Homo sapiens: one gene and its partners. The protein of the gene in region 1 interacts with the protein of each later gene in a pairwise test. Each region holds a gene or a part of one and is shown in the gene's direction. Other genes may lie near its edges.

The links.
Region 2: the proteins of SFT2D1 (region 1) and PNKP interact in binary tests that used the Homo sapiens proteins (3 or more experiments, as listed by UniProt).
Region 3: the proteins of SFT2D1 (region 1) and TBRG4 interact in binary tests that used the Homo sapiens proteins (3 or more experiments, as listed by UniProt).
Region 4: the proteins of SFT2D1 (region 1) and MIEF2 interact in binary tests that used the Homo sapiens proteins (3 or more experiments, as listed by UniProt).

The regions. Positions count from the first base shown.
Region 1 is NC_000006.12:166,339,534-166,346,955, reverse strand, and holds the start of SFT2D1 (vesicle transport protein SFT2A), read left to right. Parts: upstream 1-4,410; 5' UTR 4,411-4,474; coding exon 4,475-4,537; intron 4,538-7,422. UniProt on the Homo sapiens protein: May be involved in fusion of retrograde transport vesicles derived from an endocytic compartment with the Golgi complex.
Region 2 is NC_000019.10:49,864,577-49,872,219, reverse strand, and holds the start of PNKP (bifunctional polynucleotide phosphatase/kinase), read left to right. Parts: upstream 1-4,643; 5' UTR 4,644-4,751; intron 4,752-5,002; 5' UTR 5,003-5,015; coding exon 5,016-5,166; intron 5,167-5,774; coding exon 5,775-5,821; intron 5,822-6,793; coding exon 6,794-7,093; intron 7,094-7,643. Other genes in the region: AKT1S1 (proline-rich AKT1 substrate 1), read left to right, coding at 331-408, 504-673, 2,160-2,303. UniProt on the Homo sapiens protein: Plays a key role in the repair of DNA damage, functioning as part of both the non-homologous end-joining (NHEJ) and base excision repair (BER) pathways.
Region 3 is NC_000007.14:45,108,689-45,116,624, reverse strand, and holds the start of TBRG4 (FAST kinase domain-containing protein 4), read left to right. Parts: upstream 1-4,927; 5' UTR 4,928-4,955; coding exon of another isoform or gene 4,956-4,982; intron 4,983-7,337; 5' UTR 7,338-7,381; coding exon of another isoform or gene 7,382-7,387; coding exon 7,388-7,798; intron 7,799-7,936. UniProt on the Homo sapiens protein: Plays a role in processing of mitochondrial RNA precursors and in stabilization of a subset of mature mitochondrial RNA species, such as MT-CO1, MT-CO2, MT-CYB, MT-CO3, MT-ND3, MT-ND5 and MT-ATP8/6. May play a role in cell cycle progression.
Region 4 is NC_000017.11:18,255,739-18,263,666, forward strand, and holds the start of MIEF2 (mitochondrial dynamics protein MID49), read left to right. Parts: upstream 1-4,923; 5' UTR 4,924-4,999; exon of another isoform or gene 5,000-5,397; coding exon of another isoform or gene 5,398-5,423; exon of another isoform or gene 5,424-5,975; coding exon of another isoform or gene 5,976-5,989; intron 5,990-6,975; coding exon of another isoform or gene 6,976-6,982; coding exon 6,983-7,129; intron 7,130-7,347; coding exon 7,348-7,510; intron 7,511-7,928. Other genes in the region: FLII (protein flightless-1 homolog), read right to left, coding at 788-859, 1,171-1,281, 2,890-2,952. UniProt on the Homo sapiens protein: Mitochondrial outer membrane protein involved in the regulation of mitochondrial organization.

The DNA.
Region 1 (7,422 bases):
GCAGAGGGCAGTTAAGGGGTAGATTTTCTTTATTTGCATCAAGGCCATTTGTTAATCACTGCAGAAGAATTGGTTGCAAACAAAAAATGGAAGCTTTATACTTTTTCCAGTCTATGCCCCTGCCTTACCTAGCCCAGACACTACATCTGAGGAGTTGAGATTTACAAACATTTGGGAAGTTTTTGCCCTAGAGTTTTCTGTACATTTTAGTAGATAAAGGGGATATTCCAATAAGGAGAAGGTATGTGTTTCGGAAAGTACTTTTCTACTCCTAACAACAAACGCCTCAGAATTTGAATTTGAAGTCCCACTGCCCTGGGGGACAAAGGTCCTCTGAGTCAGAAGCCACTAACCAGATGATCCAGCAGCAGGACTGAGGGTACCAGGGCAAGCACCAGCCCATGCCATCACCCACACAGAGCCCCAGGTATGCTTGACCATTGAGGGCCAGGAGGTTAACTGTTTCCTGGACACTGGTGCGGTCTTCTCAGTCTTACTCTCCTGTCCTGGACAATTGTCCTCCAGATCTGTCACTATCTGAGGGGTCCTAGGACAGGCAGTCACTTGATACTTCTCCCAGCCACTAAGTTGTGACTGGGGAAATTTACTCTTTTCACATGCCTTTCTAATTACGCCCGAAAGCCCCACTCCTTTGTTAGGGAGAGACATTCTAGCAAAAGCAGGGGCCATTATACACTAGAATTAGAAGGAAAAAGGTTAAATATACAGACTCTAAGCATGCTTACCTAGTCCTCCAAGCCCACGCAGCAATATGGAGAGAAAGGGAATTCCTAACTTCCGAGGGAACACCTATCAAACATGAGGAAGCCATTAGGCCCCCCAAATTCTCTTTACCTCTGAATCTACGTCCTCTGATCCCTGCCTAAAGATAATTTTGTGGGGAAGAGGATTTGCTTGTGTCTCTCCAGGTGACACTCAGGTGTCTGTGTGGGTGCCCACCAACCATCTGAAGATCTATCACGAGCCACGGCATCTAGTGGACCCACATGTAGAGTACAGTGCGAATTGAAGGTTTGAAAAGCCTCGATTTGCTTTCTCTATGCCTTCTGTTAATCAGAAAAGGCCTGTTTCTCATTATCAGTGGCCTCCCGGCTACAGCCACAAAAGTTTTTGCTTCTGTTTCAGTAGATTTACTAACGTGGGGGTGAGGGTATGCTTGTGTTTTTGCAGGAGATGAACAAACCGTGTGGATACCCTCAAGATGTGTACGACCATGGAATGGGAGACTGGAGGTACCCATGGATCCCAACCTTGGACCGGGTTCCCCCAGTGTGAGCCATGAGCCAGTTGAATCTGAATGCGAAGAAGGAATGAGGACCGACCGGAGTCACGATGCTTAACGGGCCAATGCTTTCTGACTCAGCTCCTCTCTACCCTGAATATGAGAGACCCTAACAGTTAGACAGGAATATCGTCACCCCTATTCAGCATGAAGAAGTTACAGAAGATGGACCTTCATCCTTCTGCAACCCCTAGGATTAAGGGTCTTCTTGTAAAAGGGAAAGGGGAGATATGTGGGAAGCATTCAAACCAGAGCCATGCTAGTAATAATGATAGCTAGTAATAATGATATCTTCTCTTTTACAATAAAGAGAAGGGGGGCATGCTGGGAAAAAGCTGAGTGTTGGGGGGAAACTGAGGCAGGGCTTGCATAATGTCCTCTGGAATGTGTCTAGACTTGCTGGCTCCTTGCTTCTAGCCTTCCTAGGCTCCTAGGCACCTATTCCCATTATCTCAAGTAGCAGAACATGTTCCATATAAATGCTAAACTGTCACAGCTGTAAATCATGTGCTTAATGCAACATGACCTCCACATTCTCACCACCTGTTTCTTAGTTGGATTACCAATAAACACTGTGGGCTCCCAGAGCTCGGGGCCTTCACAGCCTCCGCAATAGCAATGGCCCCTGTTGTCCCACATTTCTCTCTCAAACTTTTTTCTCAATCTTTTGACTCTGCTGGACTTTGTCACTCCCACAACCTGGTGTTGGGTCTGATCACCCCAACAATTTTGTGCATGTCCTTGTGTTCAGGAGTCATTGGCTCTTGAAAAAACTATGTGGCCAGGAAGCAGGAAGAGCTAGGAAGTAAGGTTTTTTTGTTTGTTTTTTGAGACAGAGTCTCACTCTGTTGCCCAGGATGGAGTGCAAACGAGCGACCTCAGCTCACTGCAACCTCCACCTCCTGGGTTCAAGCGATTCTCCTGTCTCAGCTTCCCAAGTAGTTGGGACTACAGGCGCCCGCCACCATGCCCAACTAATTTTTGTATTTTTGGTAGAGACGGGGTTTCACCATATTGTCCAGGCTGGTCTCAAACTCCTGACCTTGTGACCCACCCGCCTTTGCCTCCCAAAGTGCTGGGATTACAGGAGTGAGCCACCGCGCTCGGCCTATACTTGAAAATCTTGAAAGCAGTTATGTCAGATATGTGAACCAGAGAAGCCCATCTTGAATAGCGGCTGGGTAAAATGAGGTTGAGACCCACTGAGCTGCATTCCCAGACAGTTAAGTCATTCTAAGACACAGGATAAGATAGAAGGTCAGCACAAGATACAGATCATAAAGACCTTGCTGATGAAACAGACTGCAGTAAAGAAACCGGCCAAATCCCACCAAAACCAAGGTAACAAGAGAGACCTCTGGTCGTTCTCATTGCTACACTCCCACTAGCGCCATGGCAGTTTACAAATGCCATGGCAATATCACGAAGTTAGCCTATATGGTCTAAAAAGGGGAGGCATGAATCCACCCCTTGTTTAGCATATCATCAAGAAATAACCATAAAAATGGGCAACCAGCAGCCCTGGTAATAGACAGCCCTGCTCTGCCTATGGAGTAGCTATTCTTTTGTCCTTCTACTTTTTTTTTTTTTTTTTGAGACGGAGTCTCGCTCTGTCGCCCAGGCTGGAGTGCAGGGGCGCGATCTCGGCTCACTGCAAGCTCCGCCTCCCGGGTTCAAGCAATTCTCTGCCTCAGACTACCGATGTTCCTCTACTTTTTAAATAAACTTGTTTTCACTTGCCCTGAATTCTTTTTGCGCAAGATCCAAGAACCCTCTTTTGGGGTATGGATCCGGACCCCTTTCCCGTAACACTTACGGACATACTCTCTTATTCAACAGAAACATAGTTTTATTCTATAGATTTTACAATCTATTTTCTGACCTTTTAAAGTTAAGGACATAAGGATAAGACTTCTCATATTAGTATGAACAGGCCACATAGAAATATCTTCTGCCTAAAGGAAAAGGATGCTGAGCATTGGACCGTTTCATCACAAGAAGGCGCGACTTGCTTTCCTAGGGTTCCTGTGGTATTTGTTTTTATCTAATTGAGTTTAGATAAAATCTCTACTGAGGCAGTAGGATGGACAATGAAACTTTTTGAGGATCCACCTTTTAACTGAAAGATTTTAGGGAGGAAATGGAGTGGGCAAAGTAATCAAAAGAACAGGCATTCTCATTACCATCTTACCAAGCCTAGAAGCAAACAGAAGAGCAAAACCTATCACTTAATGACTTCTGGAGACCATATTAGACAGGCAGCCCTGATTTTTAATCTCCTTTCTTAGCATGGTGGAAAATGAGAGAGAGAAAAATGCCACTTCCCCATTTCTTAGTGTTTGTTCATCCAGCACGAGCCGGAGAACAGTAAACGCTTGTTCAATGGTTTCACTGTTCACACAAAACTGGAAAAATGGGTTGCATTAGCTATTCCTTTTATAAATAAGATTTCACTCTTTCAAACTCCTAGCTGACCAGTGAACTGAGTAAAGAAATAGCTCTCACAAGGGCAAAGGAGTGAGGCAGCCTCTTGCTATTTCTCCTGAGACGGTCTGAAATACAGCTCCTCGCTTTAATCCTGAGGCAGGTGTTTGTGTCTCCGGATGAGGACACCCAGCTGGGAAGGCTAGCGACGCCCCCAGGGCCACCTCATGGGTGGCAGGGCGCTCTTCGGAGCACGGCCACCTGCCCGCAGGAGCCCTCCGCTCTCCGATTCCAGGCGAGGGGAGGCGCATTCGGGGCCTCGACTTCTGGGAACCCGGGGTGCCGCGGACCCGCCCAGCAAGGCCCCTCGCGGGGCCCGGAGGACGCCAAGTGCAGGGTTCAGTGGTCGTGCCCCAGTCGGGTCTACACTCAATGGCTGTGCGCCAGCTGTGGGCAGGGGGTCCACACCCGCGCTGTGTCCCCGCGCGTTACCACGGCGCACCTCGCGGACAGTGGGAAGGGATAGCCCCACCATCAGCGCCCACTCCGCGGACTTCACGGACCACTACCGGGTCCGAGAGAAAGGCTGGTGAGCATGCGCGCATTGCTACGGCGGCCGCGCTGACGCACAGGAAGCGGGCGGGACCGGACTTCCGGCTGGTCTGTGGGGTTTCGGGTTCGGGGTTTCCTGGTGGGCGTCAGGGGCAGGCAACAGAGTGGCGGCCGCTACGGCCCTGTAACAGGGCCATGGAGAAGCTGCGGCGAGTCCTGAGCGGCCAGGACGACGAGGAGCAGGGCCTGACTGCGCAGGTAGCGAACTTGCGCCCTCGTCCAGTCCCGGGGCTGCCCGCTGGCCCCGGCCGCACTGAGGACCGGCCGAGCGGGTGGGGTGGGTGCGAGGCCGGGGGTCTGGGACTCCTCTGCCCGGCTGGTTGATTTAGGAGGGCTCCGCCTGCTTCCTGGGTAGAATTTGAGAACTTTCCAGTTTTCCATGCGGTCTACTTAAACCCACTTTGAGGCCCCCCCCCGACTCTCCCATCTGGCCTTCTGACTTAGGAATCCGCTAACGTCTGCCCTCGCTTTCCCAAATAATCCATCGCTCCCACGTACTATTTGGTTTTCTGAGCCTGGTGCGGGGTCTGGCCTCGGGCTGTGCAGCGTAAGTAGCTATGCAGGGCATTTATCCTGCAAGCTGCAGTGAGCCGAGACCCTAAAGCTTGTTGCATCTGTTTGTCTTTGGAGGTAAAGGTGGTGTTATGTGTGTGTTTGCTGGGGGGTGGTCTTTTGGAAATAGGGAGACTGGAGGAAAAATAAACAGGACATTGGTAAGTGAAATAATATTGAATTAAAATTTTTCTGTTAAGGCAGTGAGCCCTGGTAAGAGATTTTTTTTTTTTTCTTAATAAAAGCCCTTGTGTCTGCGCCTTACCAGCGAGACTTGATAAGGGTTACTTCCTCCAGCAAGAAGGTTAAAAGTAGCAGTGGAGCAGGAACTGCGGTGTAAGTTTTTTTGTTATTGCATGCGATTATATTGCACGTTATTGTGTGCTGTCGCAGAAGTTGGACGTTTAAAATTGAATTGTATTTCATAAGGATCTTCTATTTGTCTCTCCTGACTTCCTTGTCATTATACTTACTCAGCACTTGGTGTGGGTAGAGTTCTGGGCTACAGTTTTGGGTTCAGAGAGTGTAAGACAAGTATCTGTTCTCATTGCACTCTGTAACTCTGTATATTACCACAGCCACATGTGGCCAATGAATTTTTTTTTTTTTTTTTTTTAGATGGAGTCTTGCTTTGTCGCTCAGGCCTGGAGTGCAGTGGCGTGATCTCGACTCGCTGCAACCTCTGCCTCCCGGGTTCAAGCAATTCTCCTGCCTCAGCCTCCTGAGTAGCTGGGATTACAGGCACCTGCCACCATGCCCTGCTAATTATTTTGTGTTTTTAGTAGAGATGGGGGTTTCACCATGTTGGTCAGGCTGGTCTCGAACTCCTGACCTCAAGTGATCCGCCCACCTTGACCTCCCAAAGTGCTTGGATGACAGGCTTGAGCCACTGCGCCTGGAGCAATTAAATTTAAATTAATTAAAATTAAATAAAATTTAACATTCAGTTCCTTAGTCACAGCAACCACATTTCACATGTTCAGTAGGCACATGTGGTTAAAGGCTACTGTATTAAACAGCGCAGATACAGAACATTTGCATTGCAGAAAGTTCTATTGGACAGTGCTACTCTAAACTTTGGAGATGCAAAGGTAATATCACTTATCTTGAGCCCACTGTCTAGAGGGGAGAAAGATATGTGGAGAAGTAATCAATCAAAGATTAGAGTGACTGGCTGTATAGACAAGTGCTGTGAGTTCAGAGGAGGTGATCGTTCATTAACAAATATTCAAGTTCCTGCATATGTTTGACATTGTTCAAGATGCAGGTGTTAATAACAGTGACCAGTGCAAATACCTCTTTCACATGGAACTTAAATTTTAATTGGAGGAAACAGTGAATAAACAAGTATATAATGTGTCAGACAGCCACAGAAAAAGTCAGAGCAGGTTGAGGAGGTTGGGGTTGCCATATTACTTAGATAAGGCCTCCCTGCCAGGGAGTCATGTGAGCACAGCTCAGAAGAGCTGCTGGGATGTCTGAGCATCCTGTGAATAAAAGCCTCCAAGGCAGATACAGAGTCCCAAGTGGTGTGTGGTCAGCATGTTCAGGGCCAGTAAGGAGGCCAGAGGGGCTCTAGCAGCGGGGCAGAGAAGAGGGACAATTGTAGAAGAAAAGGTGAAGCAGGAAGGGGGATTCTCAATTGTGAGGGTTCTCATAGGCCATAGAAAGGATTTTAGCTTTACTCTGAGTGTGATAGGAAGCCTTTGGGTTTAGAGCAGAGTGGTGGTGTGACCGACTTGGATTTTAAAGGATCACTCTGGCAGCTCTGTGGAGAACAAACTGTAGAGGCAATGTTAGAAGCCCAGAGACTGGGCTGGAGACAAGTACAGTTGTCCTGGCAAGAGATGACTGTGGCTCAAATCAGTGATAGAAGTGGTTTAAAGAGCAAAAAAGCCTGTTTAAAAAACAAAAAAGTGGTCAGATTCTGTAAATGGTCTGAGTGTACAGCCAGCAGGCCACACTGTTGACGGATTGGATGTGTGAGAGTGGGAGGAGGCAAGGATGCCTCATGGCATTCGACCTGAGCATCTGGAGAGGTGGAGTTGCCATTAAGTGACTGTGGGAGGAGCAGGTTCAGGGAGGAAAATCATTTCAGTGTGGACGTGAAGTCTGAGATCCAGGTAGCATCCAAGTGGAGATGTGAGGAAAGCAGTTGGACGTAACACTGTAGAGTTTGTGGGAGGAAATAGGAGAGAGATGAGATCGTCAAGATGAGGTCCAAGGTTTGACCTCTGGTTTTCTCTAGGTGTGTAGAAGTTTAGAGGATGAGCAGAAGCCGGCAAAGACAGCTGAGAGGCGTGGCGAGAGAAGGAGGAGGAGAACCAAGAGAGAAGGATGCCCCAGAAAGTGAGGGAAGAGAGTGCTTTAGGAAGGGGATGGGACCCAGTACTGTTGATGGGTCTCAGAAGTTAAGAGCAGATTACCCGTGGAGGTTATCAGTTGTCACTTCCACGAGAGCAGTCTTGGTGGCTGGATGGGGTCAGAGGCCTGATTGAAGTCAGGGGAGAATAGAAAGAAGATGGAGATGG
Region 2 (7,643 bases), on another chromosome or scaffold:
TCCATTTGTGAAACAGAGGTCATAGTCATTGCATGTTTCTCTAAGGCTGTGTTTTGAGTCACATTGTCCCGAACAGATCGTAGAGGTTTCATGTTAGCAGCCCGTTGTGTGCAGCTGAGAGGGTGGCAGATCCATAGAAACTGGGTTGGTTTTTGCCGATGACCAGGCAGGCTGCTAGAGGAAGTTGTTTTTGAGGTGAAGGAAATGGGTCTCAGAAGCTTCAGGGAGGTGGAGGTGGTGGCTGTGGCAGTGGCCGTGGCTGAGGAGGAGGACACATGGAGCATGGCTAGGTGCTGCCTGGCCTGGGCCTCTAACTCAGGTCATCCACAGGGCTCTTTGTGATGGATGAGGACGCCACCCTCCAGGACCTTCCCCCCTTCTGTGAGTCAGACCCCGAGAGTACAGATGGTGAGTGTCCCAGGCTGTTCCCCTCCCGACCTGAGGGCAGGCACACGGCCGACACAAAGGCAGGGACAGAAGCTGAAGTCCACCCTCTCTTTCAGATGGCAGCCTGAGCGAGGAGACCCCCGCCGGCCCCCCCACCTGCTCAGTGCCCCCAGCCTCAGCCCTACCCACACAGCAGTACGCCAAGTCCCTGCCTGTGTCTGTGCCCGTCTGGGGCTTCAAGGAGAAGAGGACAGAGGCGCGGTCATCAGATGAGGAGAATGGGCCGGTGAGGGGCAAATGTGGGGAGGTAGGGAGGGCAGCTGGAAGGGCTCTGAGCCGCCTCCTCCAGGAAGCCCTCCAGCATGGATGCTGCTTTCCACCCATAAGCTAACTGAATCCTCCCCTCAACCTCAAGAGGCGAGTTCTTGGACACGAGCCTTGCAGTTTTAACAATTGCAGCCTTACCATGTGTCCTAGTGCCTTATAGAGAAGGCCTCTCCTTTCCAGGAGCGTCTCTATTTATAGAACACCTGCTCTGGGCAAGGCACAGGTGTTTTGGCATGCCCTCCAGTGGAGAAACTGAGGCTTGGAGGGTTCAGATCACCTCCCATCCCCACCCTGCACATTCCTAGCCCTTTGCAGAATTTGTCCCACCCCCTGGTCCCCTGTTCACCCCTTGTAGCAACCCCTGTTTGAAGCTCCTGGGCTGGGCTCTGCTGGCCTAGGTGGGTCCTCCTCACCCTTCACTGAGCCTCCCTGAAGCAGAGGGGAAACTGAGGCACTGAGGGGACATGTGACTTCCCTGAGAGGCAGAGCTGGGACTGGAACCCAGGTGTGTTTCAGGAAGGAGCTGTGGGCTTTGAGGGAGGAGGCCTGGGTCCCCACAGTCCCCCCCTCAAGCCTCAGTGTCCTTATATGCAAACCAGCAGTCACAGTGGTGACCTTTTCTGTGCATCCTCCCTCAATGAAGCAGTGAGCACTGAAGACCAGGAACAGGGCCTGGTGCGGGCGGGGTCCACCTGCTGCTGCTCTCTGTGCTTGCGACTCATGGCAACACAGTTAATTGAATGCTCTGGCCTCTTGCGTGCTGTGCCCGGGGGCTGGTCTCCCACTGGGCTCAGGTCCAGTTCCTGATCTGGGTCTCCGGGTCCCATCCTGCGAGGGGACAGGCCCAGCTCCGGGTGACGGGGGCTGTAGTGGAGGCAGTACTAGGTGCCAGAACTGCAGGCTCCTTGGCGGGGGCTGACACAGCGAGGGATCTTTTCTGTAGCGCAGTGGCCACATGATAAGGCAGTAACAGCTGATTATCTCAGCCCTCACAGAGACCCTGTTATCCGCCCCATTTTTCAGAAGGGGAGACTGAGGCCTAGGGAAGCAAAACCTCTTGCTCATAGTTTGTCAGCGGCAGAGGTCTGATTGGAACATGACTGAAACCCCAGCCCAGATCCTCAGACATGAGACGGTGCACTCAGCCTTAATGGCTAGCAGGCAACAGCACTTCCACTGTGTAGGAAGCAATGTCCTAGGCCAAGAAGGGGAGAGGGAGAGGGGCAGGTAGGCTTCGTGGAGGAGGTGTCTGAACCGGGTAGAAGGGTTCCTACGTGGAGCAAGACGGGGAGGGGCACTGCTGGCAGTGGGCATCGCAGGGCACAGGTGGCAGGGCAGGGACGTGCTAGAAGTGGGCTTGGAGCCCGGGTGCACCCCTGGACCGCGTGTGGGTGCAGGGGGATTGCCCTGCCGGCGCTGACCTCGCCCCGTCGCCGTCCCCGCAGCCCTCTTCGCCCGACCTGGACCGCATCGCGGCGAGCATGCGCGCGCTGGTGCTGCGAGAGGCCGAGGACACCCAGGTCTTCGGGGACCTGCCACGGCCGCGGCTTAACACCAGCGACTTCCAGAAGCTGAAGCGGAAATATTGAAGTCCAGGGAGGGAGCGCCCCGGGCCGCGTCCGCCCCGTCCCACACTACGCCCCCGCCCCACTCCCGGGGCCTGCTAATCTGAGGCCGATCCGGGACCGGCCTCCTTGCGTCTCCCATTCCCAAGATTGTCCCGCCTCTGCCAATCCCCGCCGTCCTTCCAGCCCACGACCTGCCGCGCCGAGGAGCGGCATCTGTCCCGTTTCCCGATTGGGTCTGTCGTCTCTCTCCGCCTAGCGACAGATTCCTTCTATTAAGGGATTGGCTCGCTGAGTTCTAAGCTCTAAATGGGTCAACTCCTTTGTTTTCCGCCTAGCGACAAGGGATTTGCTCGCACGGCATTGGCTCCATCCCCTAGTCGCTGGACAGCTCTTTTTTTGATTGGCTCAAATCCTGTAAAGGGCTTGACCAGTCTCTACATAGTCACCGTCCGCTTTTCCTGAGTTCTCCCTCCCAATTGGCTCCAGCTTCCTGGGGGCGTGGCCAAGCCCTCCTCTTCCCAGAATTGGCCCGGGGCCTTCAATTTACGTTCTTTACACTACGGGGACTGGGGTCGTCTTTGCCCACGTCCCGACAACTTGTTCCCTGACCCCCTCAGGGATGGCCCCAAACTGTCCCTGCCTCTGGCACCCCCTTTCATTGGTTCCATCCATCCCCACAACAGCCTGCCAATCGAAGCCCGTCCCTGCATCCAGGATGGTACCAGCTCCCGCCCCTCGCCCCCCACCTCCACAGGTGCCTTAAAGGGCCCTCGTCCACCCAAGGTGGGGGGCAGGGGCCCTCACTCTCCGGCCCTGGTGTGGGGGAGAGAGTGAGGGGTTGGGGGATCGGCAGTTGGGAGGGGCGCTCTGAGATTAAAGAGTTTTACCTCTGAGATAAATGTGAAGTGTGTTGTGAGTGTTCATTCAACATTTTCTGAAACCGAATGGCAGCGTCTGATTATCAGTGAATAGCTGGGGGTTGGAATTACTGTGCCCATTTTATTTACTTTTTTGAGACAGGGTCCCACTCTCGCCCAGGTTCAAGCGATTCTCCTGCCTCAACCTCCCGAGTAGCTGGGATTACGCGCCACTGCCGCCCGGGTAATTTTTGTATTTTCAGTAGAAACAGGGTTTCATCATGTTGGTCAGGATGGTCTTGAACTCCTGACCTCAAATGATCCACCCGCCTTGGCCTCCCAAAGTGCTGGGATTACAGGCGTGAGCCACGGCGCCTGGCTTTGTGCCCATTTTATAGATATGAAGACACAGGTTCATGGGGTGGAGGAGAGCATCCCAGTCTTATGTGACCATGGAACCCAATCTTGAGGAGGTGAGTGTTGGAGACAGAGCCCACATATTCACCAGCAAAGCCAGGAACTCCAGCCGGGAGTCTTCTATTATAAAAGGACTGGAGCAACTGGGCTTGGTGCCTCACGCCTATAAGCCCAACACGCTGGGAGGCCAAGGCGGGAGGATCACATGACACCAGGAGGTCGAGATCAGCCTGGGCAGCACAGTGAGACCCCTTCTCCAAAGGGAAAAAAAAATGGCTGGAGGTTAGAAAGCAGGTGGAACCTCGTCCGAAATTAGGACTAGGTAAACGTAGTCCCACCAGACCACTACCGAAAGAATGCTAACACTAAATAAGACTTAAACGGATCTGAGCACTTTGGGAGGCCGAGGTGGGCGGATCACGAGATCAGGAGATCGAGACCGTCCTGGCTAACACGGTGAAACCCCGTCTCTACTCAAAATACAAAAAATTAGCTGGGCGTGGTGGCGGGCGCCTGTAGTCCCAGCTACTCGGGAGGCTGAGACAGGAGAATGGCGTCAACCCGGGAGGCGGAGCTTGCAGGTGAGCCGAGATCGCGCCACTGCACTCCAGCCTGGGCGACAGAGTGAGACTCCGTCTCAAAAAAAAAAAAAAAAAAAGACTTAAACAGGGCTCACTACCACCCATTTTTTAAAGCTTTTGTCACGTGTTAGCTCCTTTAATCGTCATGGTAACCCCACGAAGCGGAAACGATTATCCTTTTTATAGATGAGGAAACTAGAACATCGAGGGTGAAGCCAAAGAAGGACTTAGGGGCGCTGTCGGGGGCGGAGGTTTCCTCGACTGACAATGACCATCAGATGGGAAAAAAATCTTCCTCCCTGGGATGAAAATTAGAAGTCAAGGTGGAAAGAGGCAAATCTGCTAACGGAGGATCCAGTCCCCGCTACCGGCCTGAGCCTCGCGTTGCAGCAAGAGAGATGAAGGTCAGGGCTGCCGAGAGACCCTGGGGGCCGGGAGTCGGGGAAGGGGCGTGGCTGCTGTGGGAGGAGGCCAGGCCCCGCCCCCCACCCACGAGGGGACGAGTCATTTCCGTCCGCCGAGGAACCGACCGCCGCCGGCCGGGTTGCAGGCGGGGCACCTCGGGCAGGACCTCCCTGGTCGGAAGTGGCCGTGAGCCCAAGCCGCGGTCCCGGGTGAGTACGGGGCGGGGCGGAGGCATGTGCGAGGCTCTCTGCCTGTACGCTGGAAAGTGGGGATTGCAACTCGGGGAGGGATGGAGCACGCGTCGTCGCCTGGGAAACGGGTCGACCCGCGGAAGGCGAGCGGGTGGGACTTCCGGAGCAGTTAATGGTGGGGAAACTTTCTAGTGGATGTGGGAGGAGGCGGGACTTCCTGCAGCAAATTGGGGCTGTGCGCCGCTCAAGCCCGTTTACCTGCTCCCCAGGCCGGCACCCAGGATGGGCGAGGTGGAGGCCCCGGGCCGCTTGTGGCTCGAGAGCCCCCCTGGGGGAGCGCCCCCCATCTTCCTGCCCTCGGACGGGCAAGCCCTGGTCCTGGGCAGGGGACCCCTGACCCAGGTTACGGACCGGAAGTGCTCCAGAACTCAAGGTGAGCGGGGCCTGAGCTGGAGGGGGTGTGGCCTGCTGCAAAAGCGGGAACAATCCAGAGGGACGCTTGGCTGCTACGCGGGATTGCAGTGGTGCAGCCAGCCCCGAAGTCGGAAGGTGCTCTCTAGGGAGTACAGGAAGATAAAGTTTGTGCTTGATTTAGAATTAGCTAGATCCTTTGGGGGAGAGGGGATCGAGCCGATTTAGGGAGGATGTTCACTGCGCGGATGATGCTCAGGCCATCGGGAAATCCAGAAACAGGCGACGACCTTCGTCAAGAGAAAAATGATCCTGTGGAGAAAAGTAAATGTCGCTAGGTTGGGATGGATGGTAACAGGCCAAGCCCCGGACCTATATCTAGCCACATTTTTTGTCAAGGAGGAAACCAATTCTGTAGAGAAAAGTACCTCCCTGTCCCTTGCAAGGACCAGTGTCAGGCAATCCTAGTGCCACTATCTGGCTACTGCATGTCAAGGAGCCAATCCCATGTAGAAATAAACTGCCTCTTACTCCCTGGATGCTATAGCCTGAAGCAGGCCACACTCCCCAGAAATGAGGGACCCAATCACACAAGGATGCAAATCCTGACTCCACCCCTCCAATCCTCAGTGGAGCTGGTCGCAGATCCTGAGACCCGGACAGTGGCAGTGAAACAGGTATCAGTGCCTCTGCAAGGGCCAGCAAGGCCTGGGGATGGGATTTGGGGAGGAATTGCAAGCCGTCAGTGAAGGGGTACATTAGGAAAATCTGATTGGGGCCGGGCGTGGTGGCTCAAGCCTGTAATCCCAGCACTTTGGGAGGCCGAGGCGGGCGGATCGCTTGAACCCAGGAGTTCGAGACCAGCCTGAGCGACATGGTGAAACCTGTCTCTCTAAAAAATTAGCGGGAATGGTGGCGCGTCCTTGTAGTTCCTAATCGGGAGGCTGAAGCGGGAGGATCCCTTGAGCCCAGTAGGTCAAGGGTGTAGTGAGCAGTGATCACCACACTGTACTTCAGCCTGGGTGACAGAGCGAGAACCTGTCTCAAAAAAAGAAAAGAAAAAATATGGCTGGGAGAGAAGGGGATGTGTCCAGTAAAGAAAGAAGTGTTGCCTGTTTCAGTGGGGTGGGTACCTGTCCAAGACCTTAGAAATTGGACAAGGCGGCCAGGCGCGGTGGCTCACGCCTGTAATCCCAGCACTTTGGGAGGCTAGGCGGGCGGATCACCCGAGATCAGGAGTTTGTGACCAGCCTGGCCAACATGGCGAAACCCCATCTCTACTAAAAATACAAAAATTAGCGGGGCATGGTGGCGGGTGCCTGTAATCCCAGCTACTCGGGTAGCTGAGGCAGGAGAATCGTTTGAACCCAGGAGGCACAGGTTTCAATGAGCCAAGATTGCACCACTGCACTCCAGCCTGGGCGACAAAACAAGCCTATATCTCCAGGGGAAAAAAAAAAAAAAAAAAAAAAAAGATTCGGACAAGGCTGAAAACCTGTAACCGTTCCAAAGCCCGTTCCAAAGTGAAGAGGTGGGGCCTAAGGGTCTGATAGTGGTGGAGAAGGGCTGATTTTTCCGCTGGGTATTTGATTGGAGGAAGCTCCCGGTGGGGGCGGAGCCAGTCCCAGCTCCTCCCTCTCTTTCTGCAGCTGGGAGTTAACCCCTCAACTACCGGGACCCAGGAGTTGAAGCCGGGGTTGGAGGGCTCTCTGGGGGTGGGGGACACACTGTATTTGGTCAATGGCCTCCACCCACTGACCCTGCGCTGGGAAGAGACCCGCACACCAGAATCCCAGCCAGATACTCCGCCTGGCACCCCTCTGGTGTCCCAAGATGAGAAGAGAGATGCTGAGCTGCCGAAGAAGCGTATGCGGAAGTCAAACCCCGGCTGGGAGAACTTGGAGAAGTTGCTAGTGTTCACCGCAGCTGGGGTGAAACCCCAGGGCAAGGTGAGGGCCACGCCGAGGGCTGAGGGAGCCGCCACAGACTGGGACCCAATCCCACGTTTGTTGCGTGCTCTCAACTTTTTAGCCTCTACTTACTTTTCTGAGAAATGGGCCTAATGATAAATGCAGGGATCGTTGTAAGCAGTTAAGCAGTGGGGAGAATGATATATGTCAGCTCCTGCGTTACCCACAGTGACCACCCAGTAATCAGCAATGACCATGACTGTCTCAGTAGGAGCTATTACGATGAGGATTTTTTATGTCCAGAGAGACTTGAGTTCAAATGCTGTTACCACCACATTCTGAGTCCCATGTGTCTCATCTCTACGATGCTGAATCCATAAAAAAAGCACGTGGCATAGTTCCTGACATGCAGTTAGCACCCAAAGCTTTGCTCCTGCTTTTATTTTCACGGTTATTAGCCCACCGAGGTGGTGAAGGCCAGGGGAAGAAGGAGGCTGGGTAAGACATTAACCCCCATTTTAAAGACTGTAATCCTGGGGCTGGCGTCATAAGGAGTAACAGGAGACAGTAAGGTTAAGATGTCGGGCCC
Region 3 (7,936 bases), on another chromosome or scaffold:
CCAGAGCTCATATCAACTGTGGTTTGATTCCAACTGGAGGGAAGGTGAATAGACAGGAGCAGACAGAAACAGGGTGGTCAAGCATCCCAGTTTGCCTGGGACTTGAGGCGAGGAAGGGTAGGGGAGCTTCCCAAGACATGAGACTTTCTATGCTAAAACCAGCATGGCAAGTGGAGAAGTTTCAACATGTGTTTTGGAGGGGTCAAGTATTCAAACCACAACAGACGCTAACTACTTAGAGTTAGCACAGACCTCACAGGTTAAGGGCTCAGTCCCACAACACTGCCCTCACTTCAGGTGCCAGTCACAAGTAGTGGGTCCCAGACTATCCACACTTCTGTTTGACTTGGCTACAAAGCAAGGTTTCCCATGACCTGCTCTTCAGGTTTAGTAATTTGCTATAAGAGCTCACAGAAGTCAGAGAAACATTTTATCTACTGCCTTATTCCATCTGGGCTGCTGGAACAAAATACCATAGACTGAGTAATTTATAAACCCTAGAAATGTATTGCTCACAGTTCTGGAGATTGGGAAGTCCAAGATCAAGACACCAGCAGCTTCAGTGTCTGGTAAGGGCTCTCTCCCTCATAGAAGGTAACTTCTTACTGTGTCCTCACATGGCAGAAGGAGAAAGGGACAAACATGCTCCCTCGGGCCTCTTTTATAAGGGCACTAATTCCATTCACGAGGGCTCCATCCTCTTGACCTAATTACCTCCCAAAGGCCCCACCTCTTAATATCAACACTTTGCAGATTAGACTTGAACATACACATTTCGGAGGGACACAATCAGATCATAACATCTATGTTTACTAGTTTATTACAAAGCATATTTTAAAGGATACAGATGAACATCTAGATTAAAAGGGTCTTAGGGGCCAGGCACGGTGGCTCACACCTGTAATCCCAGCACTTTGGGAGGCCGAGGCGGGCGGATCACGAGATGAGGAGATCAAGACCATCCTGGCTACCACGGTGAAACCCTGTCTCTACTAAAAATACAAAAAATTAGCCGGGCATGGTGGCGTGTGCCTATAGTCCCAGCTACTCGGGAGGCTGAGGCAGGAGAACGGCATGAACCCAGGAAGCGGAGCTTGCAGTGAGCCGAGATAGCGCCACTGCACTCCAGCCTGGGCGACAGAGCGAATCTCCATCTCAAAAAAAAAAAAAAAAAAAGTCTTAGGGCCAGGTTCCAAAGGAAACTGTTCCTCTAATCACAACACTTCTGGAAGAATCTCAAGCATCAGAGCTTCTGTTCCCATGGGGTTTGGGAGGTGACACCTTCCCAGCATGTGGATGCATTCACCAACTTGGAAGCTCTCTGAACCCCATTGTTTAATAAGTTTTTATGAAGTTTCATTACCTAGGTATAATTGATAAAATCATTGGCCATTAGTAATGACAGTCAAAAGAAATGTTTTTATATGAGGAATATGAGCTTCCTCTAAATTATCAGGCCCAAAAAAAGGCATGAGAAAGAGACAGCAGTCACATCTCACTTCCTCCCTCTTGCTGAATAATCATCTTTTGAAGCTGCTTGCTATGTGGACTCTAGACTGACTGCCCCCCAAGTAGCTATAAATTAACCTAACAATACTGCATGCTGCACAACATAACTCATACCCTATCATTCAACAATGTATAGCCATCACTAATCAATGTTATTTCTGTAAACCAATGAGAATTCCTGACAAACAACTTTTTATCTGCCCCATGCCTAGTCCCCTTTTTTACCTTTAAAAACCTGCTTGTAACAAAGGCTTAATGAAGCTCATATCCCAGGTTACTTGCATGTGAGTCTTCTGGGCAGCTGTCTTCATTTTGGTTCAAATGTAAACTCTCCACTTTTATTAATTTTGCCTCCGTTTCTTCTTTTAGATAAACTGTAATCAAATCAATCTCCAGCCTCTCTCCTCTCTCTGGAGGTTGAGAGGTGGGGCTAAAAGTTTCAGCCCTCTAATCACATGGTTGGTTTCTCTGATAACCAGCTCCCATCTTCCAAAAGCCACTTCATTAGTGGCATAAACTCAGGTATGGTTAAAAGGGGCTTATGATGAATAACAAAAGATGTCACTATCATTCAAGAAGTTACAAGTGTTTTACAAATGCCCATCAATGATAGCCTGGATAAAGAAAATGTGGTACATATACACCATGGACTACTATGCAACCATAAAAAGGAATGAGATCATGTCCTTTGCAGGGACACAGATGGCGCTGAAAGCCATTATCCTTGGCAAACTAACACAGGAACAGAAAACCAAACACTGCATGTTCTCACTTATAGGTGGGAGCTGAACAATGAGAACACATGGACACAGGGAGGGGTACAACACACACTGGGGTCTGTCCATGGGACAGGGGGAAGGGAGAGCACCAGGATAAGTAGCCAATGCATGCAGGGCTTAATACCTAGGTGATGAGTTGATAGGTGCAGCAAACCACCACGGCACACGTTTACCTATATAACAAACCTGCACGTCCTGCACATGTATCCTGGAACTTTAAATTAAATTAAAATACACATACACAAATGAAAAACATCAGGATAGCAATTAGCTGGGGTGGAGGGATAAGAAAGAAGAGGAAACTCTCAGAAAATTGCAACAATATTGGTAATATTCTATTTCTTAAGTGGAGTAATGGGTTCACGGGTTTCTTTTCATAATTCTGCTTTGTAACTTGAGCATATTTAAATTTATATATACACTATATATATTATGTATATGTAGCAAACATTTTATAAATACAAATGATATTATCTTTATAAAATGCCTTAATGAAAACCTAAAGAAAAAAGTTACAAGGGTTTTAGAAGCTCTATGCAGAGACCACATATATATTTCTTAAGTCACAGGTGGCTTTTAGTATACTCAGTGTTGTGCAACCATCCCTATTATCCAATTCCAGGACACTTTTACCATCTCAAAAAGAAACCTCAAACCCATCAGAAGTCACTCCCTATTCTCCCCACCTCAACATCACATAGGTGACTCTATCAATTCACCTACTCTGGACATTGCAAATATAAATGGAACTATACAATATGTGGCCTCATGTGTCTAACTTCTTTCCCTTAGCATGTTTTCAAGGTTCTTTCCTCAACAAAACTCCATTAGTTTGTCTAAAGCTTTTCTTTTAACAGATCTATAAATCTGTTGTAATATTGTCTTTTGACAGACAACTTGTGAAGGATTTGGAGTAGAATTTGTGATAAATACATGGAATCTTAATTAACTGTTAACAGAAAAATCAAACTCTGTAAATTACTTAAAGAGGTTTATTCAGGGCCAATGAGTGACCACAGCCCCAGGAAAATACAAACCCAAAAAGCCTTAAGTGTTCCCGAGGCAGTCAGATTATAGTTTGGTTTTATACATTTCAGGGAGCCAGGGGTTACAGGCAAAGACATAAATCAATGTGTGGAAGGTATACACTGGTTTGGCTCCAAAAGACAGGATGTCTTGATGTGGGGGGTTTACAAGTTATATGTGGACTCAAATACATAGATATATACACGATATATGATTGATTGATAGATAGATAGATAGATCTCTTGGTAGGGGTAGATAGGGTCTCCCTATGTTGCCCAGGCTAGTCTTGAACTCTTGGCCTCAAGTGATCCTCCCACCTCAGCCAGCTTGACCAAGAGATTTTTTAATTTGCAACTGGTTAAAAGAGTGAGGCTCTGTGTAAAATTTGGAGTCAGCAGAAAAGAATGTTTAAGATAGTATGCCAGAATCAGCCACAATACACTGGGTCAAAAAAGACCTCTTCAGCAAGATTGATGGTCTGCAAGCTTGACTTAACCCTTGCCTTGCACGGCCTTAGGTCTTGTTTATAATTTGGTATCTTACTACCACAAAGTCTGTTAGTCTTATGATCTCTACTTTAACAAGGGGTGTTCAACCTCCCTTTCCAGAATGGCTGGGAACTCAGTTTTTAAGGTTTCTCTGGGGTCTCCTTGGCTAAGAGGAGGTCCGTTCAGTGCTTGGGGGGCTTACAATTTTATTTTTAGTTTACAAACACAAACAAACGTAATTATTTATTTTTATGTTTTTTGTTTTGTTTTTTGCGACAGAGTCTTGCTCTGTCAACCAGGCTGAGTGCAGTGGCAAGATCGCTGCTCACTGCAACCTCCACCTCCCGGATTCAAGCGATTCTCATGCCTCAGCCTCCCTAGTAGCTGGGACTACAGGTGCGCCCTACCACGCCCGGCTAATTTTTTTGTATTTTTAGTAGAGACGGGGTTTCGCCATGTTGGCCAAGCTGGTCTCGAACTCCTGAACTCAAGTGATCCGCCCACCGAGGCCTGGGATTACAGGCGTGAGCCACCGTGCGTAGCCAAGTAATTATTAACTCCACAGAAAATAAAAGGCTGTGCAGGAAGTAAAAATTAATCAAGTCCATATATAGACCTCAGATACATTTCGTTTGGGCTATCCTGCACTTTACTTTGTAATTAAACACCACTATTTAAAAATCAGGAAAATTGCACATAAAAATCCAGCTGCAAGTGGGCGCTCTGGAGTTCCCCAGTCTCCACTCACTCGTCCTCCCAGCCCCCACAGGCCTCAACGTCGCCTATCCCACTCCACCAGCCCAGTCTTCCACCGCCCTAGGAACTCTCCTACGCCTACGCAAGCAGGGAGGGATAGGGTGACAGCACCGACAACAAAGGGTCGTCTCCCGCACTCCGTATGAGGATGGCGTACTGGTCGGGGGGCAACCGAAGCCTTTCTTCCTAGGTTCTTTATCTTTTCTAAGTTTCCCATGACCTATCGCTCCGCTTGAGCCCTCAGCAAAGATGTCACCCGCCGAAAGGTGTGGCCGGAAGCTGGAGGCGTGGCTTCCGGACGTGCGGGGCGAGGCTCGTCTCGTTTCCGCCGGCGCTCCGAGTGACGTAGGGAAGCGCGCCGCGCACCTCATGGTTCCGGGGACAGTTAGGGCGGCGGATGGAGGTCAGCGGTGGTGCTCGCTGCGTAGGTCTTGTGGCACGGGGAGAAGGGGCGGCTGATCGTGGGTTTCGAGTGCACAACACAGGCGTGGCTGGGAAGGTCCTGGGATGCGGTGGAACTGGGGAGCAGGCTGGGACGCGGTGGGATGCCGTGGGCCTGGCCGTCTGCTCGTTCCGTGCTGGCTTGCCAGTGCGCACGCTTCCTCTCTAGCCCGCGCGGCCAGGCCTGGAAGACGCCGCCCCTGTTGACCGTCCATGACCCCAGCGAGCCAGTTTTCGTGACTTAGTGCAAGTTGTTTTCTCTCTGCATTTTAGAACTAAAGTTTTGGATTGCTGTTTGCCTAAACTCAAGTCTGGCTCCTGGGCTTCCGTTTACTCGGCTAAACTGCTCTTAGGGCTCTTAAAAAATTGGAAAGGCGGCCGGGCGCGGTGGCTCACTCCGGTAATCCCAGCACTTTGGGAGGCCGAGACGGGTGGATCACTTGAGGTCATGGTGAAACCCTGTCTCTACTAAAAATACAAAAATTAGCCAGGTGTGGTGGCGCGGGCCTGTAGTCCCAGCTATTTGGGAGGCTGAGGCAGGAGAATCGCTTGAATCCGGGAGGCTGAGGTTGCAGTGACTCGAGATCGCAGCATTGCACTCCAGTCTGGGCGACAGAGCGAGACTCCGTCTCAAAAAAATAAGTCGGAAAGATTTCTACACTGTGCTTAGGCTCAGGAAGTGGTAGATGTTGCGTTTGGGCAAATACTCCGACTCTCTGATCTCTCTCTCTTTTTTTTTTTCTTTAAGTGGAGTTAGACTAAGCTTTTTACAGCTGCTTTAATCCCCTCATATAAAAAGAAAATGTGCTGGCCATATACCAAGTTCCAGGAAGTGGAGAAAGATCAAACGTACATTCTGCTTTGGCAGAAATGAGGCCTAGGTGAACGTTTTATCTTGCCCTTGTCGCATGTCTTCCCTGGATCATGTAATCACCGTAGGGAGCTAGACTAGCTGATAGAATTTTTTTTCTTTTTTTTTTTTTTTGTGACAGAGTCTCGCTCTGCCACCCAGGCTGGAGTGCAGTGGCGCGATCTCGGCTCACTTCAAGCTCTGCCTCACCCTCCCTAGTAGCTGGGACTACAGGTGCCCGCCACCACGCCCGGCTAATTTTTTTGTATTTTTAGTAGAGACGGTGTTTCACCGTGTTAGCCAGGATGGTCTCGATCTCCTGACCTCGTGATCTGCCCGCCTCAGCCTCCCAAAGTACTGGGATTACAGGCGTGAGCCACTGCGCCTGGCCGATAGAATTGTTAAAAGCAACATCAAGGCTATATGTAACACATTGCTGGAGATGGCAACATTGAGTTTGGCCTTGGAAGGATGAGATGTATTTTAAAGGGTCTTATAGGGGGAGGAGGAGACCCAGATAACAAGCCCTGTAAGGTGAAGTGGAAGTGCAAGGCCTGTTTAAAATGGGGCCTTGTGTTGCTGGGAGGCAGAAAAAGCTAAGACTGAGAAAATCATTCTGGGCCATGTTATGAAGTGCTTCTTATTATTGGTTCAGAATTTTTGCTGTTAGAAATTTGGTGGGGGGGTTTTAGTAGGCTAGTGATGTAATCTACCTTGGTTTCGAGAGGCTCACACCTATGTCTACAGTGTTAAAATATATCCACAGAGGCTTTGGGAATGTGAATTTTTTTTTTTTTTTTTTTTTGAGATGGAGTCTCTCACCCAGGCTGGAGTCCAGTGGTGCAATCTCAGCTCACTGCAATCTCCGCCTCTCAGGTTCAAGCAATTCTTGTGCCTTAGCCTCCCAAGTAGCTGGGATTACAGGCGTGCACCATGATGCCCAGCTAATTTTTATATTTTTAGTAAAGATGGGGTTTCACCATGTTGGCCAGGCTGGTCTCAAACTCCTGACCTCAAGTGATCCACCCGCCTAGGCCTCCCAAAGTGCTGGGATTACAGGCGTGAGCCACCACGCCTGGCCAAGCCCGTAATTTTTAATCCTGGTTACCCTTGAAATAAAAAAATAAAAAAAAATTAATGCTGTCTAGGTCGTGTCTGCAGAGATGCCATCATTTAGGAGGCCTTGGGCAGGACCTGGGAATCTGAATTATTGAACCACATCCTAGGTGATTTCAAATTACAAGCAGGATGGAAACCCTCCCACCCAGGCTGTAATGTTCCTGAGTTTTGATATTTGATGGCATTCTGTACTGAAACAAAAATCCTGTGAGACTTTTGCTTTAGAAAATACTATCACATACCTATGGATTGTCAAGAAAGACTTAGTCTGATTTTACAGATAGAGTGGCTTTGACTATTTCATTTCTCAAGTTTGTGAGTCAGGAACTGCCCCTGTAGTAGCCCCTTCTCTCTCCTTTTTCTCTTCAGGGTTTGGAATCACTTGCTAGGAGTCTTGTCTCTCTGCCACCCAGGACATCATGGCAGCTCACCTGGTAAAGCGATGCACGTGCCTCCTGAGAGAAGCTGCTCGTCAGGCCCCTGCCATGGCTCCAGTTGGCCGACTGAGACTTGCCTGGGTAGCCCATAAGACTCTGACTTCCTCAGCCACCTCACCCATTTCCCACCTCCCAGGTTCCTTGATGGAGCCGGTGGAGAAGGAACGAGCATCTACTCCCTACATAGAGAAGCAGGTGGACCACCTCATCAAGAAGGCCACAAGGCCAGAGGAGCTCCTGGAGCTACTTGGTGGCAGTCACGACTTGGACAGCAATCAAGCAGCAATGGTACTTATCCGGCTCTCTCACTTGCTGTCTGAGAAGCCAGAAGATAAAGGCTTGCTCATACAGGATGCCCACTTTCATCAACTTCTCTGTCTGCTCAACAGTCAGGTGGGTGCCGGAGTGTGGTCTGAGAGCATAGACAAGAGGAAAACAGCCAGAAATGCTGGGGTCCACAGCAGCCAGTGCTTACCAAGCATAGACAGGGGCCTTGCATCTCTTGTGATATTTTTTATTTTTTTATAAATT
Region 4 (7,928 bases), on another chromosome or scaffold:
CGTGACTCCAAGTGACAACGGGAGTCACCGGAGCTGCCCCGCCACTTCTCCAGTCTGAATGCCTGTGCGGCACCCTGCTGCTGCTTCACGGGGTCACTGCTGCCCCTCCCAACCACTGCACTTGCAGAGGAGGCCCAGAAGGTAGAAGCGATTTGTACAAAGTCACATCACCAGGAAGTGGCAAAGCCCAGCTTTGAACTCAGAGAGTCCAAGTCAGAAGCTGTGCCCTAAACATCTCCAGGGCTCTGACTTCAGATGGGATGGCCCTCGTTGAGGCCTACAGGGTCTGGCCAAGGGCCTGATGTTCTGGGACGTTCAAGTCTTGGGTAGAAGGTACACGGTGCTCCCGGCCAAACCCCACTCAACACCAGCTCTACCACTGCCTGGCTCTGTGACCTGGGGCAAGTAATCTGCCTTGGTGGCCAAGTTTCTCTTCTGCAACATTAGTGGAGGGCTAGAGCATATGAAAAAATCCTAACAGAATAGTGGGAACATTGCTCAGCCAGTCTTGGCTATTATTACTGTAGTTATTGTCCATAACGGCTGGTAAGATTTTGGATTTCTTTACCTTTTTCCTGATGGAATTCTCTGATCCACATGGGTTACTTTACACAGGGCACTGCTGTAACCTCTAATGAGAGGGCCCCTCTGTGACACCTGAGCCTCTGAGCCTGACACGGAGGTGGGCAGAAATGCTGGCCCAGCTTGGTGTCTAGCCCAGGCTTCACGTCCCTGACCGGACCTTGGCCCCAACCCCAAGCTCGGTGGCCTCCCGGCCAGCACTCACGCGCAGCGATGGCAGGCTGGACAGCTCCCCATGAAGCGTGGTCAGGTTGTTGTGGCTCACAGACAAGTGTTCCTGGGCCGGAATGGGGAGCACAGGCTCAGCAGGGTGGGTGGGGTGTCCAGAGTCCCTGCCTGCCTCCACAACTCTGCACCATCCAGGAAGGCCTCAGCCACACTGGCCCAACTACCCCTGCAGCTTCCCTCCCTCACTCACCCGGCCTCTTCTTGCACACCTCCCTGGACAGGGTGCCCACTCCCTTTCTTCCAGCTCTGCTCATAGCTGTCGGTGTTCCTCTCTCTGGAGAAGTTGTCTGCCTTCTCCACAGGCTCTGCCCACCTGGCTCATCCACAGGGACCCTCCCCTGCCCGCCCAAACCCCCTTACCAGCTTCTGCAGGGCGGCCAGCTCCTCGGGCAGGTAGCAGAGGCCAGTGCGGTTCAGCTTCAGCCACCGCAGGCTGGTCATGGCCTTGACATTCTCAGGGAAGTAGCCGCCCTGGGGGAAGGATGTCAAGGTGAAGCACAGAGCCCCTGCTCACCACCTTCTATGGCTCCTCCAGCCCATGGGAGCCTTTGGGGAGCCACAGAACCAACTCTCACCATCTGTGAGAACACAGACAAGTCATTTCATCATTGTGCCTCAATTTCTTCACCCATAGAATGGGAATTTTAAGCCCCCCCGTGACAAAAGTGTTGGCCTAAGATTTGTCTCTCCTACTGGATTCTGGGCCCCAGGAGGGCCAGGACAAAACTGGCTTGTTTCAGGTGAAAGCCCAGCATCCGGCTCTGTGGTTAGCTCGGCTCAAATTCCTTCACCTAGCATTCCACACTCTGACTGGCTGCCTGGGGTGGGGGATCCCCCTTCCAAGCCTTTGCAAAGGCGCCACCTGTGCCCTCATCCTGCCATCAGCACACTGGCAACTCACGGCCAGGGTCAAACCCTTGCTTGCGGAGACCGTGGCTCCCCACCCTGCAGGGCAGGCCAGCATCACTGCACTCCCCTGGTGTGTGAACGCCCACCTCGGCACCTCCAGCCCTTGTGGCACCAAGTCTGGGGCAGTAGGTGCCTTCAGTGCCTGCGGCTGATATTCCTTTCCCCCTAGCGCCACATTCCCAGCTGGTGACTCGGACTCTCCCAGTTCAGCAAAGAGGAACGGGGACCCCAGGTTAGGGTGGTGGGGATGGGGTCAGGGAAAAGTGGTGTAGCCACTTGTACTTGGGGTCAAAGGTGTGTACACAGGCAGGTAAACGCAGGAAAAACCTGCCTCCTCGGCCCCAGCCCCAGACCAACAACCCAGGCCGACCCTGCCAGTCACCCACCCTGAAGGTGAGGCTGACCCTCCAGCCAGCTCTCCCTCCCTCTCTTTCTCTGCTTCCCCTTTGGTCAGGCAATGCCTGTCTCATTCTTGAGTCCTGGAACCACCCCGCCGCCCCACCCACTGGCTGCGGAGGGCTGGGCTCCGGTCCCTTTTCTCTCAGTCCAGCAGCTGCTCAGACAACTGCCACCCAGCACCTGGCACACCGGCCTGACACACTCTCCACACCAACAAATCTCACTATACTCCTTGCGTCCAAGGAGGAGACTTTTAAGCCCCTTCACCGGCTGAGAAAGCCTAGGCTCTGAGAGGGGAAGTGATCTGAGAGGCCCAGGATCACACAGTATGGCGGGTGGCGGTGGCGGGGAGAGGGCAGTGATGAGTCGGCTCCACACCCGCCCCTGGGCAGCCGGGCAGCCATCCCTGAGTCAGGGCCTGGCTTGGGCGTGTGACCTCAGAGGGGCGGGGAGGCTCGCCCGATCCCCAGGCCACCATCCAGCCTAGACCGAGAACACGGACGCGGGGTGGGGGCTCCCGGCCGGGCCCCCGGCGGGACTCCGAGCCCAAGCGTCCGTCCCCGGCCTGCCCAGCCTCGGTCTCCCCGTACAGGCACTGGGCGGAGGCCTCGGAGGTCCATTCCTGGCCAGGGGAGAGCCCCACCCCGCCCCGGCCGCAGTCCCTGGGACACGCAGGGCCTGGAGCCGAGCGGGACAGGAAGCGGAGGCCAAGCGGGCCGGGCGGAAGAGAAGGCCTGCAGGGAGGCCCGGCACGCGCCCGGCCCGGCTCACCTTGAAGTCGTTGCCGCTGAGGTCCACGCCACGCACGAACGGCAGCACCCCGGTGGCCTCCATGGCGCCGCTCTCGCTGCCGGGCCGCGCCGGGCTAGGGAGCGCCGGGGCGAGGGCGCTGGGGGGAGCCGCGGGCTGGGCCAGCGCCGGCCCCGCCCCTTTAACCCGCCCGCGCCCGCCGCATTCCGCGGGGAAGTGTAGGCTTTAGGCCTCTTAGGGCCTCAGTTTCCCCGTCTGTTCGAAGACTGCGGAGGCACCAAGGAGTGCGGGCCCCCCCTGTGCTGGAGTTGGAGGCTTCCACGATCTCCAGGCTTAAGTCCCAGCGCCCCAGGGCAGGGGCCGTAACGGCCGCTGGTCGAGGCACCGTCACCTGCGCTGCTGCAGCACATGAAGCTGGCCCTGACCTCAGAGAGATTCTAAACCTCGGCCCCGGGGCGCAGAGGCCCAGGAAGTGCCTGTACTTGGCTGACCGGTGGTAGTGAGACACCTGGATCCTCGGGTCCTAGCTCTCCTGCTTCTGGACTTAGTTTCCTCATGTGTTGTTTTTGTTTTGTTGAGACAGGGTCTTCTTGCTCTGCTGCCCAGGCTGGAGTGCAGTGGTGTGATCATAGCTCACTGCAGCCTCGAACTCCTGGGCTCAGCCTCCCGACTACCTGGGATTATAGGCGCAGGCCACCACACCTGGCTAAATTTATTTATTTTATTTATTTTTTATTTTTTTTGAGACAGAGTCTCGCTCTGTCGCCCAGGCTGGAGTGCAGTGGCGCAGTCTCGGCTCACTGCAACCTCCGCCTCCCGGGTTCACGCCATTCTCCTGCCTCAGCCTCCCGGGTAGCTGGGACTACAGGCACCCGCCACTACGCCCGGCTAATTTTTTTTTTTTTTTTTTTTGTATTTTTAGTAGAGACGGGGTTTCACCGTGTTAGCCAGGATGGTCTCGATCTTCTGACCTCGTGATCCAACCGCCTCGGCCTCCCAAAGTGCTGGGATTACAGGCGTGAGCCACCGCGCCCGGCCTTATTTATACTTTTTGTAGACACGGGGTGCTTGCTATGTTGCCCAGGCTGGTCTTGATCTCCTGGCCTCAAGTGATCCTCTGGTATCAGCTTCTCAGAGTGTTGGGATGACAGGCGTGAGCCACCGCGCCCTACCCAGTTTCCTCATTTGTAAAATACTTTCTAAGGTTGTCACCATGAGCAAATTAACAAAGAATGCACGTGTAGCTCGCAGCATACAGCAGGCGCTCAGTGAGTGGCAGGTTATTATTCCGTTTTGTTTTGTTTTGTGCGCCAGGTTATTATTCCCACTTAGTGTCAGCACCCCTGTGCTCGTACCCCCCTACAAAGGGAGGCTCCAGAAGAGAAGCATCCGTCTTGGTCCTTGCTGTTCAAGGGGGCTCGCCCTGGCTGACACATAGCAGGACCCCAATAAATGAGCCACAGCTGTTATATGCCCAACCATCCTTCGCAGGGGAGGAGGGGGTCTAGTGTCCCCATTTTACAGGAGAAAAACTGATGCCCAGGTGGAGAATGGCCCACACAAGCTCGCACAGAGCAGGTGGCAGGGGTAGGCGCTGTGCCCCTCAGGCCCACAGGTAAGAATGAGGCCACCAAGACACTCTCTCGCAGAGGTGACCTAAGAGGTTGGATGTGCCGGGCCTCTAGCCATGTGCAGCCTCTCTACCTGGTCCCCAGAAGGAACGGGGCCCAGACAGCTTCCTCCACACCGGAGGCTCACATTACAACGCACAGACGTCCTGGAGGGTCGCCTGTCACGTCACCTGTTCGCGGTCTCGGAATGCAGCCCTGCACCTTTAAATCCAGACTGCGTCAGGGAGTCCCGCCCCAGAGGGAGTGCGGCTGTCGGCTGGGGGGCGGGACCTGCCCTTCATTGGCTGAACCGCGCAGTATTTTGGCACCTGTGCGCTGGACTCGAGCGCTCCGATTGGAGTTAGGGCCTGCTTGTCTGCGTGCTGCGAAGTCCGCGGCTGCCCCCGGGGCCCTAGTCGTTGGGTTCCAGGGTCCTTCACGTTCCATTCCCAGGCTGGTCTGAGCTCCGGGGCCGTGGTCCCGCTGCCTCCTCCGGTCGTCGTGCGGAAGCTGCGACGCAGGTACAGCTGGAGCGCGGCGGGGCGGCCCCCAGGGTCACCGGGCTCGGGGCTTGGCGCGCGACGGAACGCAGATCGGGGGCGTGGCCCGCGATCACCGCTGGGGAAGGCGGGGAGGGGACCTTTGGGGGACCAAGGGCAGCGTTCGAATCCTAGCCCAGCCCCCTTCCCCTCTCGGTCTCTTGGTTTATCCTGCGAACGGGGCGTCACCCGCCCACCTAGGGCTGCTGCGCGGCCTGCTCCGCCCGGGCCCAGGGCAGGCAGGTTTGGCGGAGGAGGGAAGGCCAAACGGCCTCCAGGGCCCCGCTGCGCAAACTTGGGTTATTTTCAGCCACCCGTGCCCTTTCCTGCTTCTCGGAGCTGGAAGGCTGTGGACTGAGGCCTGCGCGACCCCGCCAGAGATGGGGCTGAGTCCCAATTTAGACAGGTTGGGAGTATTTAAAGCGCTTTACAGTTTGCAAAGTAGATTCCTGGTCTCTCTGGGGGCGGGTGGCAGTATTGATCCCCGAGTCACCGATGAGGAGATTGAAACCGGCCCTGGGGCCGTGGCGGGTCACCCGGTTGGCCTGGGATCGCCCCAGAGACCGTCTTATTTTTAGTCTGGGGCGAATGGGCGGGTGTACGGGGCTGAGTCACACAGCGCTTCAGGCTTCAGCTACTCCAGGCATCTGGTCACCTGGCAACTGGGCCCCTGGCACCCACACTCTGGCAGGGCAGGTAGAAGTCCTTGGTGCCCGGGCAGGCTGTGACCTCATGGTCATCTGCTCAGGCCTCCCCGGGAGAGTTCTGCTTGGTGTCTAACTGATGTCCTAAGGTCCCAGCCCTTCTCAGCTCCCAGGGCCTGAGGGCAGTGTCCCCCTCGCAGAACGTGAGGAATGTGGACTGGGCCCTAGGAGATCTTTGCCTCCACTTCCCAAGTGCTGGCCCCCACCCAGCCACACACTTCAAGGCTGCCCACATCTGCCCCTCACTGCTGCCTATGCCATCTTACAGGTGAGCAAACAGGCTGGGGCCCAGGCCTTCACCTTACTTTCTGTGTTGCTTGGCCTTCCGGCAGTTGAGAAGCATCACCCACCACTACCTACACATTGTCCCAAGACTGAGAGGCCCAGAGAGCCCCCTGTACAGAGGCACTGGGCAGCCCTTTCTGCCCTGCCAAAGGGGCTTCAACCCTGACAAGCACATCTGCATTGGCCTGCCTGGGCAGCTTGGGCCGTCTTACTCTGCCCGTGCTCTGACTTGGTAGCTCTGCCTCTTGGGCTACCCTGTCAAGATTTGGGGGTAACTGGTCCCAGTGGTCCCCCAGACTGGCTGGGGCCCCAAATTGTTGGTCTTCTCTGGACTTTGGGCTCTTCTGAAGAGGTTATCATAGAGGGCTGCTGTGCCCTCTGGGTAGGAACCTTCAGATGAGGCTGCTGCTGAGGACCTGGGCACCTGGCACAGGGAGAATCCGTCAGACTCTGTGGGCGGATGAGAGTCTGGAGGCCTTGCAGTCATGGGTTGGAGACCTTACCACTCACTTGTGAGCTGGCAGCCTGTAGCTCTGTAACATAGGGGTAGTGATGATGACACCCTGGTGATGTCAGAGGTCCTGGAGGGTGGGCTCCAGGGAGAGAGGCCCCTTCCTATACCTGCACAAGCCTCAGGGCCTTTGTGAGCTTCTTTCCAGGCAGCTTTGGGAGAAGGGGCTTGGCAGCTCCCTCATCTCCTCATGAGAGATGGGGGCTTGGGACCCCAAAACCCAAGCTCATATCCCATCCCTGCCCTTTCTCAGGTACTTTACGTGATTTCCCAGGGCCTCGGTGTCCTCCCCTGTGGATGGGTGGCCCCTTTCTCTGAGAAATTCTCAGAAAGCCCCCCTCATGGGCTCAGCTCTGTTACCCAGCATAAGGACAGCTAGAGCACCTGTCCACAGCAGCCCCTCTCCCAGCCTGGCCACCTGCACCTGAGCTGCCCCTTCACCCCTGGCTCTCTTACAGGCAGACCATGGCAGAGTTCTCCCAGAAACGGGGGAAGCGGCGTAGCGACGAAGGGCTGGGCAGCATGGTGGACTTCCTCCTGGCCAATGCCCGCCTGGTGCTGGGCGTGGGCGGGGCTGCTGTGCTGGGCATTGCCACCCTGGCCGTGAAGCGGGTAAGGCCAAGTGGGCGGGTCATGCCTGAAGCTCCTAGAGGAGGACAACAGGGTTGGGCTTTTCAGAGGGGCCCTGGGGAGGGGTGGGGACTGCCCAAGGCCTTCATGGGAGCCCAGGGCACCTGCTTCTCCACCCAGCACGCTGGTCTGCTTTGCCCTGGGCTTTGCTATGACTGCCCAGATTTCATATACACTGATCTGTGTGACTGTGCTTGCAGTTCATTGACAGGGCCACTAGCCCGCGGGATGAGGATGACACCAAGGCAGACAGCTGGAAGGAACTGAGCCTGCTCAAGGCCACACCACACCTGCAGCCCCGGCCTCCACCTGCTGCCCTTAGCCAGCCAGTGTTGCCCTTGGCCCCCTCGTCGTCTGCCCCAGGTGAGTGGCACTCCTTCCCCTCTTTTGGTGTCACATTCAAGAGACGCAGCCCAGGCTTTGCCCTGACTGACTGTGTGACCCTGCGCGAGTCCCTGCTTCTCTCTCGGTTGTGGGCTCCTCAGATATTTAATGGGGGTGGTGTTTCTTTGCCCTGTTCCTGGAGCAAGGTGGTAGCGTTGTGATGGTGGGGAGCTTTAGATGGGGAAACTGAGGTCCAGAGGGGCGTGACATACCTACCTACTCTGCATGAAGCTGTTGTCGCCAGGGTGTTGGACTCTGGGGCAATGAGAACTCGTCACCAAGAGCTCACTATATGTGAGGATCTGAACTGAGTGCCTTCTCAGGTGCCACTGCAGGTGAGAAAAGTGAGGCCCTGGGACATCACACAGCTAGTTCTCGGTGGCGTTTTCTTAACTAA